Homo sapiens: one gene and its partners. The protein of the gene in region 1 purifies or fractionates together with the protein of each later gene. This does not show direct contact. Each region holds a gene or a part of one and is shown on either strand. Other genes may lie near its edges. The genes, in order: CDK19, MCM3, CCNC, MED23, MED1, MED20 and ERC1.

Evidence for each region.
Region 2: the proteins of CDK19 (region 1) and MCM3 purify together in Homo sapiens (affinity purification with mass spectrometry; one large-scale study listed by BioGRID and IntAct). This does not show direct contact.
Region 3: the proteins of CDK19 (region 1) and CCNC purify together in Homo sapiens (affinity purification with mass spectrometry; 10 studies listed by BioGRID and IntAct, with this or other methods). This does not show direct contact.
Region 4: the proteins of CDK19 (region 1) and MED23 purify together in Homo sapiens (affinity purification with mass spectrometry; 7 studies listed by BioGRID and IntAct, with this or other methods). This does not show direct contact.
Region 5: the proteins of CDK19 (region 1) and MED1 purify together in Homo sapiens (affinity purification with mass spectrometry; 9 studies listed by BioGRID and IntAct, with this or other methods). This does not show direct contact.
Region 6: the proteins of CDK19 (region 1) and MED20 purify together in Homo sapiens (affinity purification with mass spectrometry; 7 studies listed by BioGRID and IntAct, with this or other methods). This does not show direct contact.
Region 7: the proteins of CDK19 (region 1) and ERC1 purify together in Homo sapiens (affinity purification with mass spectrometry; 2 studies listed by BioGRID and IntAct, with this or other methods). This does not show direct contact.

The regions. Positions count from the first base shown.
Region 1 is NC_000006.12:110,612,974-110,616,469, forward strand, and holds part of CDK19 (cyclin-dependent kinase 19), read right to left. Parts: intron 1,694-3,496; coding exon 1,562-1,693; 3' UTR 1-1,561.
Region 2 is NC_000006.12:52,274,743-52,278,242, forward strand, and holds part of MCM3 (DNA replication licensing factor MCM3), read right to left. Parts: intron 2,947-3,500; coding exon 2,793-2,946; intron 2,457-2,792; coding exon 2,325-2,456; intron 1,735-2,324; coding exon 1,526-1,734; intron 1-1,525. UniProt on the Homo sapiens protein: Acts as a component of the MCM2-7 complex (MCM complex) which is the replicative helicase essential for 'once per cell cycle' DNA replication initiation and elongation in eukaryotic cells.
Region 3 is NC_000006.12:99,551,661-99,555,160, reverse strand, and holds part of CCNC (cyclin-C), read left to right. Parts: intron 1-1,359; exon of another isoform or gene 1,360-3,265; coding exon 3,266-3,321; exon of another isoform or gene 3,322-3,500. UniProt on the Homo sapiens protein: Component of the Mediator complex, a coactivator involved in regulated gene transcription of nearly all RNA polymerase II-dependent genes.
Region 4 is NC_000006.12:131,597,243-131,600,742, forward strand, and holds part of MED23 (mediator of RNA polymerase II transcription subunit 23), read right to left. Parts: intron 2,921-3,500; coding exon 2,796-2,920; intron 2,269-2,795; coding exon of another isoform or gene 2,263-2,268; exon of another isoform or gene 2,225-2,262; intron 1,520-2,224; coding exon 1,314-1,519; intron 1,226-1,313; coding exon 1,045-1,225; intron 1-1,044. UniProt on the Homo sapiens protein: Required for transcriptional activation subsequent to the assembly of the pre-initiation complex. Component of the Mediator complex, a coactivator involved in the regulated transcription of nearly all RNA polymerase II-dependent genes.
Region 5 is NC_000017.11:39,413,264-39,416,763, forward strand, and holds part of MED1 (mediator of RNA polymerase II transcription subunit 1), read right to left. Parts: intron 2,077-3,500; coding exon 1,981-2,076; intron 1,869-1,980; coding exon 1,763-1,868; intron 1-1,762. UniProt on the Homo sapiens protein: Component of the Mediator complex, a coactivator involved in the regulated transcription of nearly all RNA polymerase II-dependent genes.
Region 6 is NC_000006.12:41,918,340-41,922,452, forward strand, and holds the start of MED20 (mediator of RNA polymerase II transcription subunit 20), read right to left. Parts: upstream 2,801-4,113; 5' UTR 2,680-2,800; coding exon 2,666-2,679; intron 2,605-2,665; exon of another isoform or gene 2,461-2,604; intron 1-2,460. Other genes in the region: BYSL (bystin), read left to right, coding at 3,224-3,491. UniProt on the Homo sapiens protein: Component of the Mediator complex, a coactivator involved in the regulated transcription of nearly all RNA polymerase II-dependent genes.
Region 7 is NC_000012.12:997,723-1,001,222, forward strand, and holds part of ERC1 (ELKS/Rab6-interacting/CAST family member 1), read left to right. Parts: intron 1-3,500. UniProt on the Homo sapiens protein: Regulatory subunit of the IKK complex. Probably recruits IkappaBalpha/NFKBIA to the complex. May be involved in the organization of the cytomatrix at the nerve terminals active zone (CAZ) which regulates neurotransmitter release.

The DNA of each region.
Region 1 (3,496 bases):
ATAGTTTTTAAAAATGCATGTAATTTGCATATACAATAATCAGCTATTTCTTCTAGCTCAAGAAAACATTTAAAACAAGGCTGGTGCTGCTAGTAGCATTCAGAAGAACACAAATTTCTTGCCCCTTACATTACAATGGGAGCTCTAAGTTTTTACATTTCCTTTTGACTCTGGGGAGTGAGGGGCTCCTTAAAGCAGCTAAGAAAGAACTCAGCCACTAATTCATAGATAATGGAAATGCAAATATTCACTTTGTCTAGTATAGTCTTATACTATCCGCCCATAGTTTTTAGGCACAATTATTAAGTTTTCTCCTAGGGGCAAAAGAAATCATTCAGTGCAATGAAAAAGATTCTTGATAGAATTAAGTTTCAGTAACAACAGCAAAATTATGCATACATAATACATACTTTAAACATGAATAAAACCTAAATTTTTAACATGCTTTAAAAATAGTCACTCTATATCTAATACAAATACGAATGGAGAACACTGCTCTTTATTTTAAAAGCAGATTAATTTTCAGGCTTCTACTTGAGTAACCTTGATTATGCAAGAAAGTTACTCACGCAGACCCAGATGTGAAGAAACCAATGGTTCTTTAGAGAAGCCGACTTTATGTACAATACACACTAAAAACTTTTCCTTCAAAGGGAAGTAACACGTCTTTTGATCAAAATTACTCCTTACAGAAATCCTAGTGCAGTTGTTACTCTCTTCAGCGTTTTGGTGTGGGCCATCGAGACTGTACAAAGCTCTTGAAACCCTTTTTAAGGTAGACTTAGCTACATGAAGGTTAAAATTGTAATTCTTAATTACTGAATGCTATTCAGAATAAGATGATGCTGGGAACTCAGTTCCATATGAATGATTCTATAAAAATTACCACATACTTCAGTTCTTCGTGGCATAAAGCACATAACTGCAAAGATCTAGGCAGTTTTTGGTTGTAGGTTCCCTCTGTCCCACCGCTTGTCTTTTTATTAGACCTTCCCTGAAACTAGATAAATACGAACGTAATAGTAAAGTACTTTGGGACAGTAACAGTTTCTGTTTAAGACTTCCATGAGCAGAACAGTTATTGTCTGTGAAAACGTAGTGCTTTAAAAGGTGCATTTTTACCTGTGTTGCTAAATCAGTTCATGAAGTATAAAACTATACACCACTGGAATCCTGTTTCTAAAACATTAAAATCCTATTAAAAGAGCTTTGAAAAGATAAACCATAGTGATTGCTACAGCATGAGAAAGGTGCACCAGGAAATCCTTCAAAGAAATGCTGAAGGTTACAGAAGTGCTGGGATTAGATCAGACGCTTTATCAGAGAAGTCACAATGGAACACATGCAGGGAAGGGGTGCTGGGGAAACTTCACAAGAATCTTCTTTAAGTCAATAAAGAAGAGCTATCAGTCCTGCACAATGCTCAGTATATAAGGTTTTCCTCCCATGTGTATGAGTTTTAAATGGCATCATAGTTTGCATTTTTTTGGTTCTTTTCAATGCAGACATATTGCTGGAGCCTGTGCTCTGGGCTGGGCTGGCCTGGCCCAACGGGAGCTGGTCAGTACCGGTGGGCCTGGTGAGATGGGTGGTACTGTGAGCTCTGCTGAGACGAGGAAGAGTAGCCAAGTGTGCTCTGGGACTGAGAGGATCCCTGAACGCTGCTTTGGTAATTCAGGCGAGAACTGGAGTGCTAGGAGAAGGAAACAGGAAAAGGGAATTACTGATGGAGGAAGAGGATGACTCAAGATGCTCATCACAGTAGGATAGAGATATAAGCCGTTTTCATTAGGTTCCTGGTTCAGACACACATAGCTGACAGCTAACTTAAGTTGTTAACACATTTTGCTTATTTGAAATCACAGCCTGCCACCACTGTAACCACACATTCTGGCAGGCATGAAATTTGGCTAGATTTTTGTGGGAGATAAGCTACACTGGAAAGAAAGGAAAAGGGGAAATTTCAGCGGACCCATTTCTCTTTATTCCAATTCTGGGGTGTAACAATCCTTTGCATAACTGAGACGTGCAAACAAGAATAATCAATTTGGCATACTGAAATCAATAGTATTCATAATGTATACTGACATGCTATTATTTTTCCCATTATAAATAACAAAGCTGTGATTAAGAAATCATTATTTTAGAGCAAAGGGTTTTCAGAGGTAGAAGCTAGGGGTATCAGGAGTTCTACCTACGAGACAAAGTAAGGCAAGATTAGGTGGGGTGCGGCAGCAACATGTGGGTTTTATAAACTTCAGGTAACATTTAGAATAAAGCAATTTTCACATATGATTGTCTTCAAGAGAAGACAGAAAAATGCATTTCAATTCAATGTATTTTTATTACATTAAATGAAACCTTCATCTTCATAGTACCTAACGCAAATACAAAAAAAATGTGTAAAAGGAAAAATCATCTATAGAATAAGAACAGTATGTAAGAGACAAGCATAGCTGGAAGTAGTATCTTTGGCTATATTCAGAAGGCTGGTTTTTCTTGTAAGCAAAGTGGGAAAGAATATATGTAATAAAGCTATTACTTTTGAAACTTCCTTAGCAAAAATTAAACAGCAAGAAAATTATGACAGTGAAAGAGATCTGATTTAACCCACTCCATCTTGCCTTTAACCTCCAAACTGTTCTTGGTCATTGCTGGGCATGGGCCAAGCTAACTTTGGGAGAAATTTAGTTTATAGTTTAAACGACAATAGTCCATCCCAAAACTAAACTGCCTTTATAAAACTACTAAAAGGCCACAAGTTTAGGATTATGAGAGAGGCCTGAATTCTGCTAAGATGTAGGTGCAGTTAAACAATTACCAGTCATTGTTCTGGAGGTCAATTGGCTACTCCCCAATTACTCCTGTAAATAACATCACTATTGTCAACCTTTTCAGAAGGCTTTTCAGACTTTTGCATTTCGGATGACTCCACCCAGACTGAGACTCATGACTCAACCAGTCCTGTGGCCCCCACCCAGAAGTGGACTCAGCACAGGAAGACCATTTTTCACACCCCTTTGATTGCATCCCCAACCAAGCAGCAGTAGTCATTCCCTAGACCCCTGCCCACCAAAGTATCTTTGAAAAATCCTAGCCTCCAAATTTTGAGGAGGCTGATAATAAAACTCTGATGTCCCATTTAGCTGGCCCTATGTGTATTAAACTTTCTCTATTGAAATTCCTGTCTTGATAAATTGGCTCTATCTGGGCAGCGAGCAAGAAGAACCTGTCGGGCGGTTACACTTTGAGTTAAACATGTAAATTATCTTGAGGTGGCACTGGGGGTTTAGGAAAGAACAGATCAGCAAGGTCCTCCTGCTCAGTGCTCAAAGGCTGCCAAACGACTTGGAATATCTGGTCCAAGATAACAGGGCACTAAGGTAGTTTTGGTTAAAAACAACTCAGTTGTGGCTAGGCACAGTGGCTCACACCTGTAATCCCAGCACTTTGGGAGGCTGAGCTGGGCAGATCACCTGAGGTCAGGAGTTCAAGA
Region 2 (3,500 bases), about 58 Mb from region 1:
TACTCTCCTTTCAATTCTGGGCCTACTGGACTGATACTTACCCATCCACATACACTTCACAGTCAGAGAACATAACAACCTTTAGGTAATAATGATTTTGACCATGTTCACGTTTCAGGTCCTGCCATTTTTCTTGTATTTCCCAATCACTCTTGAGAATGACATAAACATACATTATCATTTATTTTATTTTATTTTACTTTTAAAGATGAGGTCTCACTATATTGCCTAGGTTGGTCTCAAACTCCTAGGCTCAAGTGATCCTCCCACCTCAGCCTCCCAAAGTGCTAGGATTACAGGCATGAGACACTGCGCCCAGCCCTATCATTAATTTTAAAAGCTATGGTTTTCAACCTTGGCTACACATTAAAACCAAACCTGTGGAGCCCTTCTAAACCATAGCTACCAAGAGCTCCAACTCAAGAGATTTTAATTCAGAAACTCTGAACGGGGGACCATGCAACTGTATGTATAAAAAACACCATCGCATCGCAACAAGGTGTTCCCATACACTGTGGGATTGATTATAAACTGCCAGGACACAGCATGAGCTCTGGGCTCAAATCCTGGCTCTGCGATTTTCAAGTTTGTGGCTCTTGAGCAAGTTACATAATCTTTTGTACCTCCATTTTCTCATCTGTAAAATAAAGATAACTACACATTGTGAGGTAGTTACTGATAGGATAAAAGGAGTTGGTAAATACAAAGCATTTATGAGCATTCATTAATAGAAGTATTAATATGGTACAATCTTTAAAGAGGGTAATTTTGCAATCTCTACCAAAAGAAAAATGCACATAACTCTTAATCCAGTAATTTCCTTGCTAGGTATTTATACTACAGATATATTCCCAAATCTATCCACACACATAAAGGGATGGCCACTACAGCTTCATTCAAAATAGGGAGGAAAAAATGGAAACCACTAAATACCCATCAGATGGAGACTAGTTAAATACATCCCTGTGACGGAATACTAGAAATCTATTTTTTTAAAAGGAAAAACTCAACAAACCCCACGCACAGACAAATATAAAAGATTATATCTAGCACATCACAGTCATGGTAAAAACAGAGATAATTCTTAACAAGGAAATAGTGTATTTGCTGGTACATGCTTAAAGTTTTGTTTCCTGCAACACTTCAAAGCTGTTATTTCTTGGCAAAGTGACAGGAGAGAGAAGCAAGTCTTTTCGTTTTCATACTATATACCTGTTCTGTTTAGAAATTCTCCCGCCACATGCATGTAGTCCTTTTATTTAATGGACGGTTAAATATGTTAAATGGACTGTTTAACTGTACTGTTAAAAAGTTACTTTTAAATAAGGAACTTTCCAGGGGATTCTGCTGTGCAGGAATGGGTGAGGAACACTGCTCTAAACAAAGGACAATAACAAGAAAATGGCCTTACTTTTAGTCTTTGGCCTATTATTCCCCTGGGTCACCTAGAATACACTTCTCAGCCCAGTTAGTCAGCAAAACCAAATGAAGGTGAGGACAATGGTTGGGGCCTGATTCCACTTACCCTGCCGTAGACAGGGTTGGCAGCTGCCAAAACACTGCAGCGGGCATTCAGCCGAGCATGGATGCCAGCCTTGGCAATGGTCACTCGACCCTGCTCCATCACTTCATGGATGGCTGTGCGATCCATGTCAGACATTTTGTCAAATTCATCAATGCAAACCACGCCTCGGTCAGCCAGGACCATGGCCCCTGCTTCCAGACGGCGCTCTCCTGGGAAGTGAGAAGGTAAAAATACGTGCTACAGTCTAGGTTATAGGGGCCAGAAGGGAAGGATTTCAATCTCCTTCCTAGGAATCTCTCACTTTGCACGTGAGAATGCGGCAATGGTGTGTTGGCTCCGAGAAACTTAGAGGAAACCCTGGTGGGTCACCTTTTCAGCTCTAATCTAAATATTAATAGTATCTCTTTGTCCCACTTTGACCCCTAAGTAACTAGCTTCTCACAAATTTCCTTCATAGATTCTCTCTTCGGCCTCAACCTCAAGTAATACCCCAACTAGACCTCTGCCTTCTCTTCACTGGTCTCCAAATCCCTTCCTCTAGTTCATAAAATAGTACAATCTTCATTTTTATTTCCTTTCTAATGTGCTAAGACTTAATCCTTTAAATCGAAAACATTCCTGTAAATAGATGAACACCAAAGACTTAAATAATTCACCCACCATTGCTGAATACTCAGTCCTCTATAATCTGGACCCAACTAACCTATCAGCTGTATCTTCAGAACACAAGCCAGGGCACACAAAGGATCTATGCTCAGGCTCTCTGCTGGGCCTTTGCCAAGGACCCTTACACCCTTACCTGTTTCCTGGTCTGTGGTGACAGCAGCCGTCAGACCCACTCCAGAGGAGCCCCGGCCAGTGGTGGGGATAGCTCGGGGTGCAGTGCAAAGCACATACCGCAGAAGCTGAGACTTGGCAACGGATGGGTCTCCTGTAGGGTGGGGGCAGTGATGACTCTCTAGGAAACTCCCCAGCACCCCCAGCAAATTCTGCCTTTCTAGCACAGCTCTTGACACAACAGAGTCACACAGTAAGTGGATTTTAATATTTTTCCTTCGCTTTTCCCTTCACCACTCACGGAAGAATATTTATATACTATAAATCAGGAATTCCAGAGATGACAAAAAAAAAAAAGATTCATTTTAGCCTTTTGTCCTTTGATAGGACTGAAATACTGCTAAGTACAGAATATACAATCTTACATATTATAGGTCTCCACAACCACTCCATCAGAACAACAGTCTAAAGCAAATCCCCAACATCGTACCTATTAGAAGAATATTGATGTCCCCACGGATGTGGCTGCCATTTTCTAGGTCTCGTTCCACCCCTCCCAAGAGCAAGCAGAGGATTGCTTTCTTGACATAGTCATGCCCATGGATACTTGGGGCCAATGACTTGGCCAGCTGGTCAAAGATATCCTACAGGAGAAATAACCAATGGCAAGCCTAGTGAGATTCAATGGGACTTTGTGGAGCTCCACTTTATATACTTTGGCCTATAGAAAATACTTGAAGAGGGCCAGGCGCAGTGGCTCAGGTCTGTAATCCTAGCACTTTGGGAGGCCGAGGCAGGCAGATCACGAGGTCAGGAGTTCGAGACCAGCCTGGCCAACATGGTGAAACCCCATCTCTACTAAAAATACAAAAAATTAGCCAGGCGTGGTGGTGTGCGCCTGTAATCCCAGCTACTTGGGAGGCTGAGGCAGGAGAATCACTTAAACCCAAGAGGCGGAGGTTGCAGTGAGCAGAGATCGCACCATTGCACTCCAGCCTCGGTCACAGAGCAAGATTCCGTCTCACCAAAAAAAAAAAAAAAAAAAAAAAAAAAGAAAATACTTGAAGAAACACACAAACAGGTACATTGTTCCTAACTGCAAAAAATTATTTTCTAAGACAAATTACACTATCAGGCCATTATCAGAGTAGGCACAGAGCAGCCTGGATTCCAAAACTTGTTTAGAGGTTTAATCTTT
Region 3 (3,500 bases), about 11 Mb from region 1:
AAGCACTGTACTCTAGTTGATAAAGTTATTACCCATGGGTGTACAAGTTAACAATTCTGATAATGCTATACATGTATATGGGAATTAAACAATTACGTAAATCAATAGCAAATGTTTGAGAGCCGGGTTTCTCATTGTTGGAGCGGGAATTTACAGATAAGCAAAGGGCTGGAAACAGCATGAACTCGTGTACCTTAATACAATATAGATGGTTAGTTACATATAGAAATATTTATAGATAAGTGTATATACATGGGTTAGTGTGTGTATTTCTTGGCTTTCTCAGCTGAAAGGGTCTATAAGCAATGACATCCCAGTAGCAATGAGCTCACCTAGTACCCATATCTTGGTTTCTAATATCATTCTCCAATAAAAGGTACCAGGGCTCCTTGGAGAAATGGTTGATTCTAGGACTGGGGCAAGAAATACACAAGATGGACCTGGACCATCTCTTAATGCCAGTAATAAAGAAGTATTCAAAACAAACAAGAAAAACAAAAACGTCTATTGATGAGGATATGTCAAAAGGATATAGGAGCTAACTAAGAGAGCTCCCACTGACCAAAGCTGAAAGAATTTGAGCATCAAAATTTTAAAAATAGCATTGGATAATAACTCAAAGTATAAACTAAATATCCATGAGTCCATACTGATATAAATAAATGAGGGAGAAGAGACATGTCTTCCATGCTGAAGAATTCCAAATAATATATGTAACTATTCTGCCCTCAAGTAGAGGGAGCATAACTCCCCACTCCTAAGGTGCTGGCTATACATGTTAACTTCCTGCTAGTGTGTACATATGGAAAGGGAGGAAAAAGGTAACTTTACAGTGGGGAAACCTGAGAAATACTGCCTTAGCCAGGCGATCAAGGTCAGTAGCAACAGTGATAAATCACATTAATATCATGTATCATTGATGTGATATGATGAAGATGGTACTTTATCTCGGTGGTCTTCCTGTCAAAAACCCATTTTCTCTAGTCTAATGAGAAAAACATCAGACAAATTCCAGTAGAGGGGCATTTGACAAAATACTTGACTGGTACTCCTAAAAACTGTCAAAGTCATCAAAAACAAGGAAAGGCTAGAAAACTGTCACAGCCAAACAGTCTAAGGAAACATGACAAATAAATATAATGTGGTATCCTAGATAAGACCCTAGGATAGAAAAAGGACATTGGTACAAACTAAGGAGATCTGAAAAAAGTACAGTTTAGTTAATAATAACATTTCAATATTGGGTCAGTAATTGTAACAAATGCGCCATACTAATGTAAGATGTTAATAGTAGGGGAAGCTGGGTGAAGGCATGTCTTAGTCCACTTGGGCTAATATAAGAAAGTACCATAGACTGGGTGGCTTTCACAACAGACATTTATTTCTCACAGTTCTGGAGGCTGGGAAGTCAATAACGGTGGGTATAAGAGAACTGTGCATGATCTCAGTGTTTGAGTCTACAAAAATAAAAGGCAGAGGAATATAATTAGGTAGAGTTTGTTTTGCTTTTTTCAAGGGAAATTTGAGCATATTAGTATGTGATGGAAGATTTACTGAAGGAGGAAGGTTAAAGATGAAAAAAATAGCAGGAGTTATCAATTGAATAGATGATAATAAGTGTATAAGTGGTAAGACAAACAATAGAGAGGAGGGATGTATTTTTCTCCAAGTTGGAGGAAAAGGATTAAAAGACAGAAAAAAATGCAGAGCAGTTTTAGCATGGAGTAACAGACATGTGACAGTATCAGGTAAATATATTCTCAATAGAGGTGTTAGGTGTCAAGGTCCAGGGGATGGGGATGTAGATTTGTTTTATATACAGAGATAATTTTACTTTGTTGATTGTCTACCATTATATAAGAACCTGTTGTGCTGGTATACTTTACATCACAAGGATTTGTAAAACTCAGAAACCTTAATAGGTACGTCTTAAATTTAAATAAAGGAGAGAAGAAAGGAAAGATTATAAATTTACTAATGTCAAGTTTAAATTATTCTAGGTTTCAAATCCTGGCAGATATTACACATCTAAATTAGCTGTAGGGCACTGAATTTGCAAAACAAATCTTTTTGAAAACATAGTGCATAGAAGAAATGGAATTTCTTTCTTTTTTTTTTTTTGAGATGGAGTCTCACTGTCACCCAGACTGGAGTGCAGTGGTGTGTTCTCAGCTCACTGCACCCTCTGCCTCCCGGGTTCAAGGGATTCTCCTGCCTCGGCCTCCCGAGTAGCCGGGACTACAGGTGCATGCCACTACACTCGCCTAATTTTTGTATTTTTAGTAGAGATGGGGTTTCACCATGTTGTCCAGGAGGTCTCGAACTCCTGACCTCAGGTGATCCACCCACCTTGGCCTCCCAAAGTGCTGGGATTACAGGCATGAGCCACTGTGCCTGGCCAGAAATGGAATTTCTTTTAATTTCAGTGAAATCACTTGGGCTTTGTACAAATGGAAGCTGACACTAAACATTTTTTAGGACCTGTCAGTAGTTACTTGGTTGAATTAAATGTGTCATAATGGCTTGAATACAGTTTCTCAAATAGTACTTATGTGTATATGCTCACACCATTTTAAGGAGATGGGGGATTGATGGTTAACATTTTTTTTTCATTTGTACTTTATTTAGTGACTAACCAATAAAGTAATAGATAATAGAGTACTAACTTTATGTGTTACTACTACTACTTTATGAGTAACTCGAGACCTTTGCATATATATTAATGCTTTTATTAAAATATATATTTTGATAAATACCTGGTCATTGTAAAAAGTTTAGAAAGTGCAGATTAGTAAAAAGTTCTTAAATCTCACAAATAACCACTGTTAACATTTTTTTGGTGTACTATCCTCCCAATATTTTATATGTATATTTTTTACCAATTGTATATATTGTAAACACATATGTAACCCCTGTGTTCCTTCTAAGCTCAGTCACTGGAAAACAGAAGAATACCATTCTGTAGCTGAAAAGATTTTAGAAATGATAAAAGCCAGTGATTTTTTTTTCCTGATCTTTTTCTTTTTTAAACATCAGAATCCTTTCTTAAGGTAGTAAATATAAAATTGAAGCTGTGTAGAGTGTCCTGCCCCCCAGTCTTTCCCCTTCCCTGAAAGTAAATAAAAATCTGCGTCCGTAAGTGTTGCCAAGAATTCCTACTGAAAATAATTTTGCTCTACCCTCTAATATTCTGCTCTGTTAAAGGAATTTTGAGTTAATTTATTTCCCATTTTCTCAGTTTAAATTTTTTTTTTATTTTCTGCAGTAAAAACTAGATTTTCATATGCCTTTCCAAAGGAATTTCCTTATAGGATGAATCATGTAAGTATATGATATAAAATGGAACAATTATCAAAGCTATATATAAACTAGCTCTATTTTATATTAGACTAAATTTAATAGTTTCCTAGAAATGGCAGTTTCAAATATTACATAAATACAGACATTATTCTAAATTAAAGCTAAATAGCTTTTACCATTTAAAAAAAATACTTCATAGT
Region 4 (3,500 bases), about 21 Mb from region 1:
GAGGCGGGCAGAACACGAGGTCAGGAGATTGAGCCCATCCTGGCTAACACGGTGAAACCCCATCTCTACTAAAAATACAAAAAATTAGCCGGGTGTGGTGGTGGGCACCTGTAGTCCCAGCTACTTGGGAGGCTGAGGCAGGATAATGGCGTGAACCCGGAAGGCAGAGCTTGCAGTGAGCCAACATCACGCCACTGCACTCCAGCCTGGGCGACAGAGAAAGACTCCATATCAAAAAAAAAAAAAAAAAAAAAAGAAAAAAAAAATTCTGCTGGAAATAGACATCAAAGTCAGGAGAAGAAAAAAACATTTGGGGAATGTTTGTTACCAAAGTGTACAGAAATGGTTATATTCGCACTCTGTAAAGAAACACAGTGACTTACTGCTACTTCCTCCCTCTAGTGGGAGTTTTGGAGAATCAACTCAGGGTCTAATTGCTCATATTTTCAAAGTATCACAAGGCTAGGACCACATCTATTTTATTTACTTCTGTACCTTCTATACATAGAACACAGTTGATATTCAATATGTACTTATTAAATGAATGAATAAGGAAATTGGGGCTGGAAGCAGTAGCTCACGCCTGTAATCCCAGCACTTTGGGAAGCTGAAGAGGGAGGATTGCTTCAGCCCAGGAGTTCGAGACCAGCCTGGGCAACATGGAGAAACCCCATCTCTATAAAAAAGTTAAAAAGAAAAAAAACTAGCTGGGTATGGTAGCATATGCCTGTACTCCCAGCTACTCAGGAGGCTGAGGCAGGAGGAGATTGCTTGAGACCAGGAGGTTGAGGCTGCAGTGAGCCATGATCACGCCACTGCACTGGGCGACAGAGCGAGACCCTGTCTCAAAAAACAAACAAAAAAACAAAAACAAACAAAAACAGAAATTGGAAAATTTCCGGCTCTTTAGGGAAGTGACAGCAATGCTTGATATAGTATAAATTCATTAAATCCTTCAAAGCAATATAGAGCAGATTGGCATAACATATATTAGTCATACATCTTGATCTAAGAGAATAAGCTTAGAAATGTATTTATTCTTACCAGGCAGAGAATTAATCTGTCCAGTGTAACAATGTTATACTTCCATACCATGTCATTAAGAATTTCAATGCATTTATTGAGTTGCTGACCCCCTGCTGATGTAGAAAACTCATATACCAGGAAATCTGCAAATGTCCTCACATGGGCTACCAAGGCCCTGGCTCCAATTCTCTCTAATACTCTGGAAGGCAGAGAGTAAAACATAAACTCCATTGTTGTATGGATACAACAATTTGCCAAATGGAATGCAAATTAGGTTTTTGACTTACCTATAGCCAATCTGATTAATATGATCTGTTTCCAAGAGCATTTTCCAGAGAAGACAAAGAAAGAGAGGAGGGGAGCCCTGCATAGAGAAGTGGGTAATAATGTCGTTTTCGTTGCTCATTGACTTCCACTTCCTATACTCCTCCTCCACATTTTTTTTCAGATTAAAACGGCTTTCCTGAGGCACATTATTTTGTTTGAAGAATGCCTAAAAAGAGGATTAGAAGTTTATTTCATTGGTTATAGTAGAAAGAGCACTGGATATGGAGTTAATAAACCAGTTCTAGACTTGATTCTGACACTAATAAACTCTAGGTCACCTTGAGCAACTCAGCAATTAAGGCCTGAATTTCTGTGTCTGGAAAATACATAAGCTTGACTAGATTATCTCCAAGATTCCTTTTCCTAGATTTCCTAAATGGAAATTCTAAGTAAGCCTGAATTCAAAGCTTCTTCAATCATCTGTTGATACTTCCGCCAATCTTAAAAAGAAAAAAAAGAATGAAGTGTCTCTACCCTTTGGCTACATATGTTAGTGTCTTTGAGGAAAATCCATTGCACTAGCCCAGTGATTCTCAGAGTGTGGTCCCAACACCAGCGGTATCAGCATCATCTGGGTCTTACAAGAAATGCAAAATTCTCAGACCTTATCCCAGATTTACTGAATCAGAAGCTCTGTGGCTGGGGGCCCAGCCAACTGCAGCTTAGCAAGCCCTCCAGGTGATTTGGTAAGTTTAAAAACCAAATGCTCTAGCCCTACCAGGAGTTATGAAAAATGGATGTTCATCATGCCTAACATTTTTTCTGAAAAGGAGAAGACAGATGAGGTTTGCCTTTCTCCTTATTAGAAAAGCCAGGTTTACAGTTTTTCTGTGATTAAGAAAAAAATTCAGTGAAGTGTCATATTACGCACACTCTGTGAAGCTCCATTACGTTATACTTCTCCCCATTTCAGTTCTATGAGAGAGAAAAAAGTTTTCAGGTACTATGTTAATTTTCATGAGATTCTAAAACCATTAACTATTTTTTTCTCTTTTTCAATTTTTTTCACTTTTATTTTTTTCCTCTTTCTACTCTTCCTCCCCTTAAAACTGTTAACTAAGATGAAACCATAATAATTAAATTTTTAGAAACATGTCCAGTACCAGAGTAGGACACAGAACAACTTGAGAGATTTTGTAAGTAATGACTTTTTTTTTTTTTTCTACAGACAGGGTCTGGCTCTGTCACCCAGGCTGTGGTACAGTGGTGTGACCATAGTTCCTTGTGAACCTGAATTCCTGGGCTCAAGCCATCCCCCTTGCCTCAGCCTCTCAAGCAGTTAAGACTAGAGGCTTGTGCCACCATGCCCAGCCCCTAAATATTTTTTAAAATAAATAAAAGCTAATTTTATTCAGAAGTCACCAAGACTCACTCTAGAACACCATTGTGAATGGGAAGAAGGATTTCATGTGCATTCAATAAGTAATTCAAGACCAAATTACCTGTAGTGGGCCTGGAAAACAGCTCAGGGTGTGTGAAGCCCAATTATGAGGAGTGAAACTCATGATGGTCTGAAGTATGTCTTTACACCAAGTTCCCTGAATTGAATCAGAGCCTGTAAAAAAATCTAAACATAAACAAATAGATGTAATCCAGATATAAATGATTATATCCACAATTCATAAAAGATTATAGCGAAAATAATAATTATGTACACTGAGAATTTCACTGCAGTGCATTCACTGCTTAACTAGTTATATTCAGCTTAGAACCTAAATTTGCTTAGTTTATGAATGATCTGGATGATCACATTAGAAAATATGAGAACAGTTTATGAAAAGATGACAAAAGACATTTGAAATCTCTTTTTTTGAGGTTACAGAGTACCAGCGATAACAGTAATACAAGCCCATCACTACTGTTCATTTACTTTGACACTGATTTAGTAGTACTTTATTCGGCCAAGGGAACAGAATAAAGAAAGATATCTTTTTTGGTGAGTGAAATAATTACATAATGCATGTATAAATCTCAGAATTGAAGAGGGTTCTTTATGTAAAACAAAATAATTTACATAAACGTATTTGAGGTTGCTAAAACCAATAACTATCTCTTTAAAACATCAGTTCTCAAGTGTGGTCTGTAGACCTCTTGGGGATTCCCCAATAGCCCTTCAAAGATTCAATGAGGTCAAATAATAATAAAAA
Region 5 (3,500 bases), on another chromosome or scaffold:
GTTAGTTTGTTTGTTTTGAGACAGAATCTCACTCTATCACCCAGGCTAAAGAACAGTGGCGCAATCTTGGCTCACCGCAACCTCCGATTCCCAGGTTCAAGTGATTCTCCTGCCTCAGCCTCTCAAGTAGCTAGAATGACAGACGGATACCACCATGCTCGGTTAATTTTCGTATTTTTATAGAGATGACATCTCAACATGTTGGCCAGGCTGGTCTCGAACTCCTGACCTCAAGTAATCTGCCCGCCTTGGCCTCCCAAAGTGCTGGATTACAGGCATGCACTGCCACGCCCAGCCTAACATTTAAGTTGTGAAATCTGCTCAGGCAGACACAGTGGCTCACACCTGCAGTACCAGCTACTCAGGAGGTCTAGGTGGAAGGATAACCTGAACCTCGGAGGTCAACACTTCAGTGAGCCGTCATCACACCACTGCACTCCAGCCTGGGTAACAGAGTGAGACTCTTGTCTCAAAATAAAAAAATAAAAGAATAAAAAGATAAAAATGTCACATCTATGAAGAATTGGCACACAGGATAGGTAAGAAAAATATCTGTATTTTATTATGGCTTTCTCCTGCCTTAAAGTACCATAATTCCAGGCCTGAAGTTACCTACTTTACTTCCCATTACTCTCATAGTAATATCATTAAAAAAAAAAAAAAAAAAAAAAAAACAAAGCTGGCTGTGTGCAGTGGCTCACGCCTGTAATCCCAGAACTTTGGGAGGCCAAGGCAGGCAGATCACCTGAGGTCAGGAGTTCGAGACCAGCCTGGCCAACATGGTGAAACCCCGTCTCTACTAAAAATACAAAAATGAGTCAGGTGTGGTAGCACATGCCTGTAATCCTAGCTACTCAGGAGGGTGAGGCAGGAGAATCACTTGAACCCGGGAGGCAGAGGTTGCAGTGAGCCAAGATTGTACCACTGTACAATCTGGGCATCAGAGCAAGACTCCATCTCAAAAAAAAAAAACAAAGCTTAGATTACTTTGAATCCGAAAGCAGAGAAGGGTGAAATCAAAGCAATAACTAAATTGCTCCTTTATTTGAAATTCATGCTAATTCTGAAAACAACATTTTTTTTTTTTTTTGAGACAGAGTCTCACTCTGTTGCCCAGGCTGGAGTACAGTGGCATGATCTCGGCTCACTGCAAGCTCCACCTCCCGGGATCATGCCATTCTCCTGCCTCAGCCTCCCTAGTAGCTGGGACTACAGGCGCCCGCCACCATGCCGGGCTAATTTTTTGTATTTTTAATAGAGACGGGGTTTCACTGTGTTAGCCAGGATGGTCTCAATCTCCTGACCTCGTGATCCACCCGCCTTCACCTCCCAAAGTGCTGGGATTACAGGCGTGAGCCACCAGGCCCGGCCTTTTTTTTTTTTTTTTTTTTTTTTTTTTTTTTTTTTTTTTACAACAAAAACAAAAACACGGAGTCTTGCTCTGTCGTCAGGCTGGAGTGCAATGGCGCAATCTTGGCTCACTGCAACCTCCACCTCCCAGGTTCAAGTTATTCTTCTGCATCAGCCTCCCGAGTAGCTGGTACTACATGTGCCCGCCATCGCGCCTGACTAATTTTTGTATTTTTAGTAGAGATGGGGGTTCACCATGTTAGCCAGAATGGTCTCAATCTTCTGACCTCGTGATCCGCCTGCCTCGGCCTCCCAAAGTGTGGGGATTACAGGCGTGAGCCACCGCGCCCTACTCAACAACATTCTTTATACATCTCTAAATGGGACTCAGATGAAAAAGGGCCAAGGCTACCTTTGAACAACTTTGGCAATGAAGTCATCTGTGCAGATCAGTGCATCCGACAGCCCTTTGTAGAGTTTACAGCTCACATGTGTTGAGTCCTGCACATCCATTACCACTGAAAGACAAAATACATAGGAAATTGTTTTAGATTTAGCTTCTGACTTTTCCAAAAAAGACATAGGGACCAAACCGCTCCATGAGAGGTGTTAGCCACCCACACAACTCACCACACACCAGGGAGTCATTCACAGGGTGCTGAAAAGATACGCTGAAACGAGACTCTGAGAGAGGACACACTTCAAATTGGAGAAGCCCAGGAGAATCTAAAAGGCAAAGAGAAAGATCATAAAACAACCAAATATAAGACTTCACACAGGCTGGGCACGGTGGCTCACGCCTGTAATCCCAGCAGTTTGGGAGGCCAAGGCAGGTGGATTACCTGAGGTCAGGAGTTCAAGACCAGCCTGGCCAACATGGCGAAACCCCAACTCCACTAAAAAATAAAAAAAAGAGGCCGGATGCAGTGGCTCAGGCCTGTAATCCCAGAACTTTGAGAGGCTGAGGTGGGCTCATCACCTGAGGTCAGGAGTTCGAGACAAGCCTGACCAACATGGACAAACCCCATCTCTACTAAAAATACAAAATACAAAATTAGTCGGGCGTGGTGGCACATGCCTGTAATCCCAGCTACTCGGGAGGCTGAGGCAGGAGAATCACTTGAACCTAGGAGGCGGAGGTTGTAGTGAGCTGAGATCGTGCCACTGCACTCCAGCCTGGGCAAGAGTAAGACTCCATCTCAAAAAAAAAAAAAAAAAAAAAAAAAATTAGCCGGGTGTGGTGGCGCACACCTGTAATCCTAGCTACTCAGAGGGCTGAGACAGGAGAATCGTTTCAACCTGGGAGGCAAGGGTTGCAGTGAGCCGAGATCATGTCACTGAACCCCAGCCTGGGAAACAGAGCAACACTCTGTCTCAAAAAAAAAAAAAAAAGACTTCACACAAATAACATTCCTTAAATGTACAGACTGAAATTCTCTCTCCCTCCTTGGAAACTAAATCGCACACTTTTTTCACATACAAAACCTACTATATGTCATCCACAGATGACAGAAGGAATCAGATTCCAAGGAACCTGCCAGTTTGTTATAAATTTCTCCAGAACAAAAGTAGCTAGACTTTCAATTTTCCAAGATGAAGAAACTTAATCCCTAAAATGTAAAAGTGAATTCTGAAAATAAAAGTGGCCGAGTGTCTCATTCTACTTGATAAGCAGATATCCAGAACCACTGCCATAAACTCTGCTTTCTATCAAGTGTTTGCAGCTGTTAGATGTGCAGCCCATAGTTTGGCAAGCAGAGATATAGAGGCTATAATCTAAAATAATGTATTTATTCCACATATATCTAGCCATCATCATATGTTCTTATGCCAGATGTGCTAGCAGCCTAGACACAAGGATCATATACTTTCTTTGTAAAAAGCATGCCTCTCTATAGGATTAGCTCCATAACTGCCTTATGAAAACTCATTTTTAAATGCCCTAAAGCTATCTGGAGACTTCTTAAGGCATTTTAACACATGAAACAGAAGTGCCACAACTTTGAACATATATGCTCTATGTTATTACTCCAACTACTAAAAATTTCTCATTTCTAAAGCAATTTTTATTTCCATGAGAAGAATCTCCTGGCCCAGCACAGTGGCTCATGCCTGTAATCCCAACACTTTGGGACACTGAGGTGGGAGGA
Region 6 (4,113 bases), about 69 Mb from region 1:
CCAAAAATACAAAACTTAGCCAGGCATGGTGGTGTGCGCCTGTAATCCCAGCTACATGGGAGGCTGAGGCAGGAGAATCACTTGAAACCAGGAGGCGGAGGTTGCAGTGAGCCAAGATCGCACCACTGCCCTCCAGCCTGGACAACAAGAGCGAAACTCCATCTCAAAAAGAAAAAAAAAAAGACGAAACTTGGCCAGGCACGGTGGCTCACGCCTGTAATCCCAGCACTTTGGGAGGCCAAGGCGGGCAGATCACGAGGTCAGGAGATCAAGACCATCCTGGCTAACACGGTGAAACCCCGTCTCTACCAAAAATACAAAAAAATGGCCGGGCGCGGTGGCTCACGCCTGTAATCCCAGCACTTTGGGAGGCCGAGGCGGGTGGATCATGAGGTCAGGAGATCGAGACCATCCTGGCTAACAAGGTGAAACCCCGTCTCTACTAAAAATACAAAAAATTAGCCGGGCGCGGTGGCGGGCGCCTGTAGTCCCAGCTACTCGGGAGGCTGAGGCAGGAGAATGGCGTGAACCCGGGAAGCGGAGCTTGCAGTGAGCCGAGATTGCGCCACTGCAGTCCGCAGTCCGGCCTGGGCGACAGAGCGAGACTCCGTCTCAAAAAAAAAAAAAAAATACAAAAAAATTAGCCAGGCATGGTGGTGGGCGCCTGTAGTCCCAGCTACTCGGGAGGCTGAGGCAGGAGAATGGCATGAACCCGGGAGGCGGAGCTTGCAGTGAGCCGAGATCACGCCACTGCACTCCAGCCTGGGCAACAGAGTGAGACTCTGCCTCAAAAAAAAAAAAAAAAAAAAAAAAGAGGAAACTTAAGTACAGCACAAAGAGGTTAAATAACTTGCACTAGGTCACACAGTTAATGGGTGGTACACTCAAGACTCAAAGCCCAGCAACCTGGCTTGATGTCCATGCTCTTAACCACTAACTAGACTGCCTGTATAAGGATGTAGTGCCTGTTAAAACATTAAGGAAAATCGATTAAAAAATTAATAAACAATAGTACAAGCAGTACTTAGCTATATAGAAATCAAGAAAACAGTCATAGATGACATTGCTTTATGATCAACTAAATGAATCTATTAAGGTAGAGTCCTTCTGTTGCTAAAAATTGTCACTACTCTATCAGAAAAAAACACTGATAAACGATGTTGCTAATGTGCCTTATTTTGAAATACAAAAGAATCCCTAAACTGACGCTACAAGTGACAGAAGTCCTAGGATTCTGAAAACGTTGATAAGGGGGCCAACAGAGAGCCCTTTCCCTGGAGCTGCCTTCTCCATTTAAAGAGCAGGGGTGGCTGGGCACGGTGGCTCATGTCTATAATGCCAATACTTTGGGAGACCAAAGCAGGAGGCTCGCTTGAGTTCAGGAATTCAAGACCTGCATGTACAAAACAGCAAGACCCCATTTCTATTTCTTTAAAAAAAAGAAAGAGCAAGGGTTCCAGGGTTCTACGCTGCATCCTTTCCATTTCCATTCCTCACATATCTTGCTTCCATTAAGGAACACAGGAGGATCGTGTCAATCGTAGGAAGCAAGAGTGCAATCACTGAGAAACCTGCAAGAACCTGGGCTACCAGGAGGAAAAGTATTTCCCCTACACATGCTTTTGTATGAGAAGCCTATATCCACTGGCTTCAAATATCCTGGCCTCCGGATTTCTCCCACGGGAAAAATGCTCACATCTACTGAGATAAGAAAAAAATGTTCTGGGACCTGGCACCTTACAACTAACGCCTCCACGAGCACTGGACCCATACCTTTCCCTGCCACCTCATCTTCTTTCAACTGAGACTTAAAACATATGAAAGATAAAAACTCCATTGAAACTAGACCAACCATGGAATTAAACATAGTGGGAAACGGGTCCTAAAGAGATAAAGTGCCTGGAACCATGATCTCCTTATTATCAATACCCTTTTTTCCTCTAGACCCAAGATCTTAAAATGAGCAAATTAGAAACAGACACAAGCGGGTCTAACTGTATTTGATGGCTGAGGGAAGAGCAGGCGAAAATCTTAAAAAATACTATCTCCTGATTGCTTATGGCCCACTCCCTCCAACCCTGTCTGCAGGTGGGTCATAGTCCAAAGACCCTATTTCCAACCCTGAGGTCCCACTGCAGGCAGTACTATGGCCTCACGGGAAGGAAGATGTATCCAGAAGAGAATGAGGTATACAACCATTGATAGGTTCCTGGGATAAAAAGTTTGCTTTGTCGACACCAGCGTGGCCAATATGGTGAAACCCCATTTCTACTAAAAATACAAAAAGTAACCGGGCGTGGTGGCGGGCGCCTGTAGTCCCAGCTACTCGGGACTACAGGAGAATCGCTTGAACCCAAGAGGCGGAGTGTTGCAGTGAGCCAAGATCGCTCCACTGCACTCCAGTCTGGCGACAGAGCGAGACCCCGTCTTAAAAAAAACAAAACAAAACAAAAAAAAAACCTTTGCTTTCCCGCCTTCCAAGAGGAAGGGGCGCATCTCTGAGGAAACAAGCCCGGGGAACCCGCAGCCCGGACGGCATCCTCTCATCTACACAACCCGAGGACATCTCCCTCAGCTCCCAGAGGACGGCGGACCATGGTCAAGGTCCTCTTTCCGGCCTTTCACAACTCCAAGCCCCGCCCCACAAAACCCCCTGCAGTCCTACCAAGTCACTCCCATGGCGTCGGGCCAGGAAGGTGGCAGAATCACACAGTAGAAACGCAGGGTTCCCTGTCCGCCCACAGAAACTCCTTCAGTTCCCCAACACAACCTTCTGTCTCAGAAGGGACTCCGGAAATACGTAAAAACAGAGCGCCGGGTCCACGCCTTCCCCAAGGAATGGGGCGTGTCTCGGCACCCCTCGGTGACGCCTCCACTGACATCATCTGCGGATTCCCGCCCCGAGGTTTCTAAATCCAGACATTCCCGTTTGGCTGAGCACTCTAGGCCTACATCCATGAAGCTAGGAGAGCGACACTCAAAGACTGCACTATTGAGAGAAGCTAACGTTAAAGGCAGTGAATATATTCGGGAGTCCAGCTCCGGAACCCGGGAGCTCTTTTAGTGGGAGGGGCGGCGCTGATGGCGCTTCTGGCCTCCGAATGCTAGGGGGCGCTGTGATCGCCGGGCGGCCTCTTGGGCGCTGGGAGTCCACCGCGCAAGCGCATCCTGGCCTTTCTTCAGTCCCCACGTGCGATCCTTCCCGGCAACTTTTTCGAGAAAAATGCCCAAATTCAAGGCGGCCCGTGGGGTGGGGGGTCAGGAAAAACATGCGCCCCTGGCCGATCAGATCCTGGCTGGGAATGCGGTGCGGGCGGGGGTCCGGGAGAAGCGGCGGGGTCGCGGGACAGGAGAAGCGGAGGAAGAGTATGTGGGGCCCCGGCTGAGCCGACGGATTTTGCAGCAAGCACGGCAGCAACAGGAGGAACTCGAGGCCGAGCATGGGACTGGGGACAAGCCCGCGGCGCCGCGGGAACGCACCACGCGGCTGGGTGAGTGTCTGGGATGAGGTCCGAGGAAGACAGTGGCCAGTAGTGGGGCGGGGTGGGCAGCTAAAAAGTGTCTGGCAGGGGAATTGCTTCGAGTCAACAAAGGGGTCCGTATTACACTTGCAAAGGAGACTGAACCCTGTCTAGAGCCCTCCGCGTCCACTCCTAGTTTTAGGCACTCCCTTCTAGACACCCCCGAAGTTAGGCCAACAGTAATCGATCGCGCCACTAAGTGCTCCTAGCATGTATCCATTGGTTTTGTAAATATTTATGGGATACCCACTACGAGCTTTGCGCTATGCTCGGAATTCTATCGAATGTTTGGGTACAGAAGTAAACAACACAGGCACGTCTAACTTAAGGACCTTACAGTCAAGCCCAGCAGAGAGGCAATTAAGTAGACTCTTAGAATAATATATTTCCATGATAAAGTATCGTTTCCCTGGTAACAATAGCATTGGTCTTGAGAAGCTTCTCCGATTGCAGCAGGACCTTTAAGCTGAGAACTGAAAAACGAATGGGAAGTGTTATGAGCAGAAAACACATTGTTTAGCAGCCAAAGAGCGAGAGAGATGAATTGAAAGACGTCTGATGTTTTCTCACTAGGGAGGGAGTGTTGACCTCT
Region 7 (3,500 bases), on another chromosome or scaffold:
GGGAATAGTGGTCTGGAACTGGCACTGGCAGGAAGGAAGGTACCAGCCTCATTTCCCAGTATTGGGTGTGGAGTGGAAGAGACTGAGTAGCTTTCACTTAAAAGGACTATATGAGAAGAGGTGTCCTGATTGGAAAGTCAGCTTTCAGTTAAGGCAGAGAGGTAGCAAGAACATTTCCCAAGGAAGTTGAAGACTTTTAGAGGAGTTTCTTGATAAAAGAATGAAGTTCCATGAGAGTGTATTTTTCCACCCTATTGGCTTGTTATCATCATTTAAACTTTAAAATGTCTCTTCATCTTAATAAAAAACTCCAGATTTATACTTTATTGCTCTAAGTTGCTCTCTGCTTTACACACTTAAGAGTTTTCTGCATTTGCTGTGTATCTCCATTTCTTCACCTGTGACTTCTCAACCTATTTCTGTCTTGTTTCTATCGCCATTATTTCAGTGAAACTGAAAATAGCTAGTGAAAATATGTATGAAAATAGCCAATGTCTATTTTACTATCCTGTTCTTATTTAACCTCTTAGCAGCTGTGCTAGTTTCTATTGGCTATATAACAAATTACCCCCTAACTTAAGAAACATTTATTGTTTCACAGATTTTGTAGATCAGGAATGTGGGTGCAGTTGGCACCTATGATTCAGGGTCTCTCACAAGGCTGCAGTCATCTCAAAGCGCTACTTGGGGAGGCTGTTTCCAAGCTCACTCATGCGGCAATTGGCAGGCCTGAGGTCCTTGTTGGCTGCTTGCTGGAGAGGTGAGTCCCTTGCCATTTGGGTTTCTGCGTACGACTACTTAAAATATGATATCTCAGTGCTTCTGTCTTCAAAAGAGGACAGATATTAGCCAGAATCTTTTTGTAACCTTATCTTGGAAGTGATGTGGTATCACTTTTGTTGTATTCTGTTATCAGCCAGTCACTAGGTCCAGTGCACTCAAGGCAGGATTTCACAATTGCATGAATGCTGGGAGGCAGAGATCACTCATAGCCATTTCAGGACTGTCTACCACAGCAGCATTTGACAGAGCGGATACCCCTCCTTCCTTTGTAAAGCTCTCTCTTCTCTTGAGGTCTTCAGAGCACTTTTCTGTTTTTCTTGCTGGTTCTCTGGGCTCTTTCTCTGTCACTTTTTTTTTTTTTTTTTTTTTTTTGAGGCAGAGTCTTGCTCTATCGCCCAGGCTGGGGTGCAGTGGCACAATCTTGGCTCACTGCAACCTCCGCCTCCTGGGTTCAAGTGATTCTCCTGCCTTAGCCTCTTGAGTAGCTGGGATTACAGGTGTGCACCACCACACCCAGCTAATTTTTGTATTTTTAGTAGAGATGGGGTTTCACCATGTTGGCCAGGCTGGTCTCGAACTCCTGGCCTCAGGTGATCTGTCTGCCTTGGCCTCCCAAAGTGTTGGGATTATAGGCGTGAGCCACCGTGCCTGGCCTCTCAGTCACCTTTTGAGTCTTTCTGTGCTCATTTATTAAATGTTTGAATTTCTTTGGGCTTTCTCATCGCTTTCTATTTCATTTTTCATCTGTGTGCTGAGTATTCATTTTTATGTCTTCAGTTTTTACCTCTCTCCTGAGTCTGAGGACCACTCTATCGAATTGCTACTGAATGTTTCCATTTGGATGCCCCTTAAACCGAACACATCCAGAACGGAATGTATGATTCCTACACTTCCTCTGGTGTTTCTTAATTTGTTAAATGACACCACTGGGTGCTTAAGCCGGAAATGTGTGTGGTGTTCTTGATTTCTCCCTCTCCTCCACCTTCCATTTTACTATTGCTTTTTATTTTTCTAGAGCCATGGCTGTTCAGTGATGGTGTGAATGTTTCTATGAGGTAGTGCATCCTCTGCCAGGTTGCAAGCATTGAACCTGGTGCTAGGTGATTTTTTTTTTTTTTTTTTTTTGAGATGGAGTTTCACTCTGTCGCCAGGCTGGAGTGCAATGGTGCAACCTCCGCCTCCCGGGTTCAAACGATTCCCCTGCCTCAGCCTCCCGAGTAGATGGGATTATAGGCGTGCACCACCACGGCCAGCTAATTTTGTATTTTTAGTAGAGACGGGATTTCTCCATGTTGGTCAGGCTGGTCTCAAACTCCTGACCTCAGGTGATCCGCCTGTCTTGGCCTCCCAGAGTGCTGGGATTACAGGCGTGAGCCACTGTGCCCAGCCCGCTAGGTGATTTTTAAGATTCCTTCCAATCTTGAGATACTGCGTGTGTAGCTATTGAAGATTTCTGAGTAGGAGATGCATGATCAGGGCTGTGCTTCAGAAAGGTGGCAACTCTTGAACAGTCATTTTTAGTTGTTCACCAAAGAATGAAACTAAACACCTGTATTCTTTTTAACTTTATTATGGTGTGCTAAGTGATGAATAGATAATTTTTATGTGACAGCCCTTTTGTATATATTAGTTTCATTTTTTCTCATTGTTAATGCATTTATGTTTGGAAGCCCTTTTGCATGGAAATAAGATAATCAGGCCAGGCACAGTGGCTCACGCCTGTAATCCTAGCACTTTGGCAGACTGAGGTGGGTGGATCACTTGAGGCCAGGAGTTCAAGACCAGCCTGAGCAACGTGGCGAAACCCCATCTCTACTAAAAAATAAAAAAATTAGCTGGGTGTGGTGGTGCACGCCTGTAATCACAGCCACTCTGGAGGCTGAGGCATGAGAATTCCTTGAACCCTGGAGGCGGAGGTTGCAGTGAACTGGGATTACACCACTGCACTCCAGTCTGGATGACAGAGCGAGACCCTGTCTCAGAAAAAAAAAAAAAAATAACCCAATGGGATGAAAATTTTGGGATGAAAATTTGTGTGAACTTAAATTAAGTGTCTCTGCCATCCTGGCCAACATGGTGAAACCCCGTCTCTACTAAAAATACAAAAATTAGCTGGGTGTGGTGGTGTGTGCCTGTAGTCCTAGCTATTTGGGAAGCTGAGGTGAGAGAATCGCTTGAACCTGGGACGCACAGGTTGCAGTGAGCCAAAATCACGCCATTGCACCCAGCCTGGTGACAGAGCAAGATTCTGTCTTAAAACAAAAAAAATTAAGTGTCTGAAATTGTAAAAACTTCTCAAGAAATAAAATTCAGACCTTAAACATAATTTTACTGTAGGAATATAACTTACCTTTTGAAGGAATTCTTTCTTGAAGCCATTATTTGTGTATTTATTTATTTTTAATTAACTTTTTTGTTTGTTTGTTTTTTTGAGATGGAGTTTTGCCCAGACTGGAGTGCAGTGATGCGATCTCGTCTCACGGCACCTCCCAGGTTCAAGCGATTCTCCTGCCTCAGCCTCCCAAGTAGCTGAGATTACAGGTATGGGCAACCACGCCTGGCTAATTTTTGTTTTTAGTAGAGATGGAGTTTCACCATGTTGGCTAGGCTGGTCTCAAACTCCTGACCTCAGGTGATCTGCTCACCTCGGCCTCCCAAAGTGCTGGGATTACAGGCGTGAGCCACACTGCCGGTGCTTGCCACCTTGCCTGGCTAAT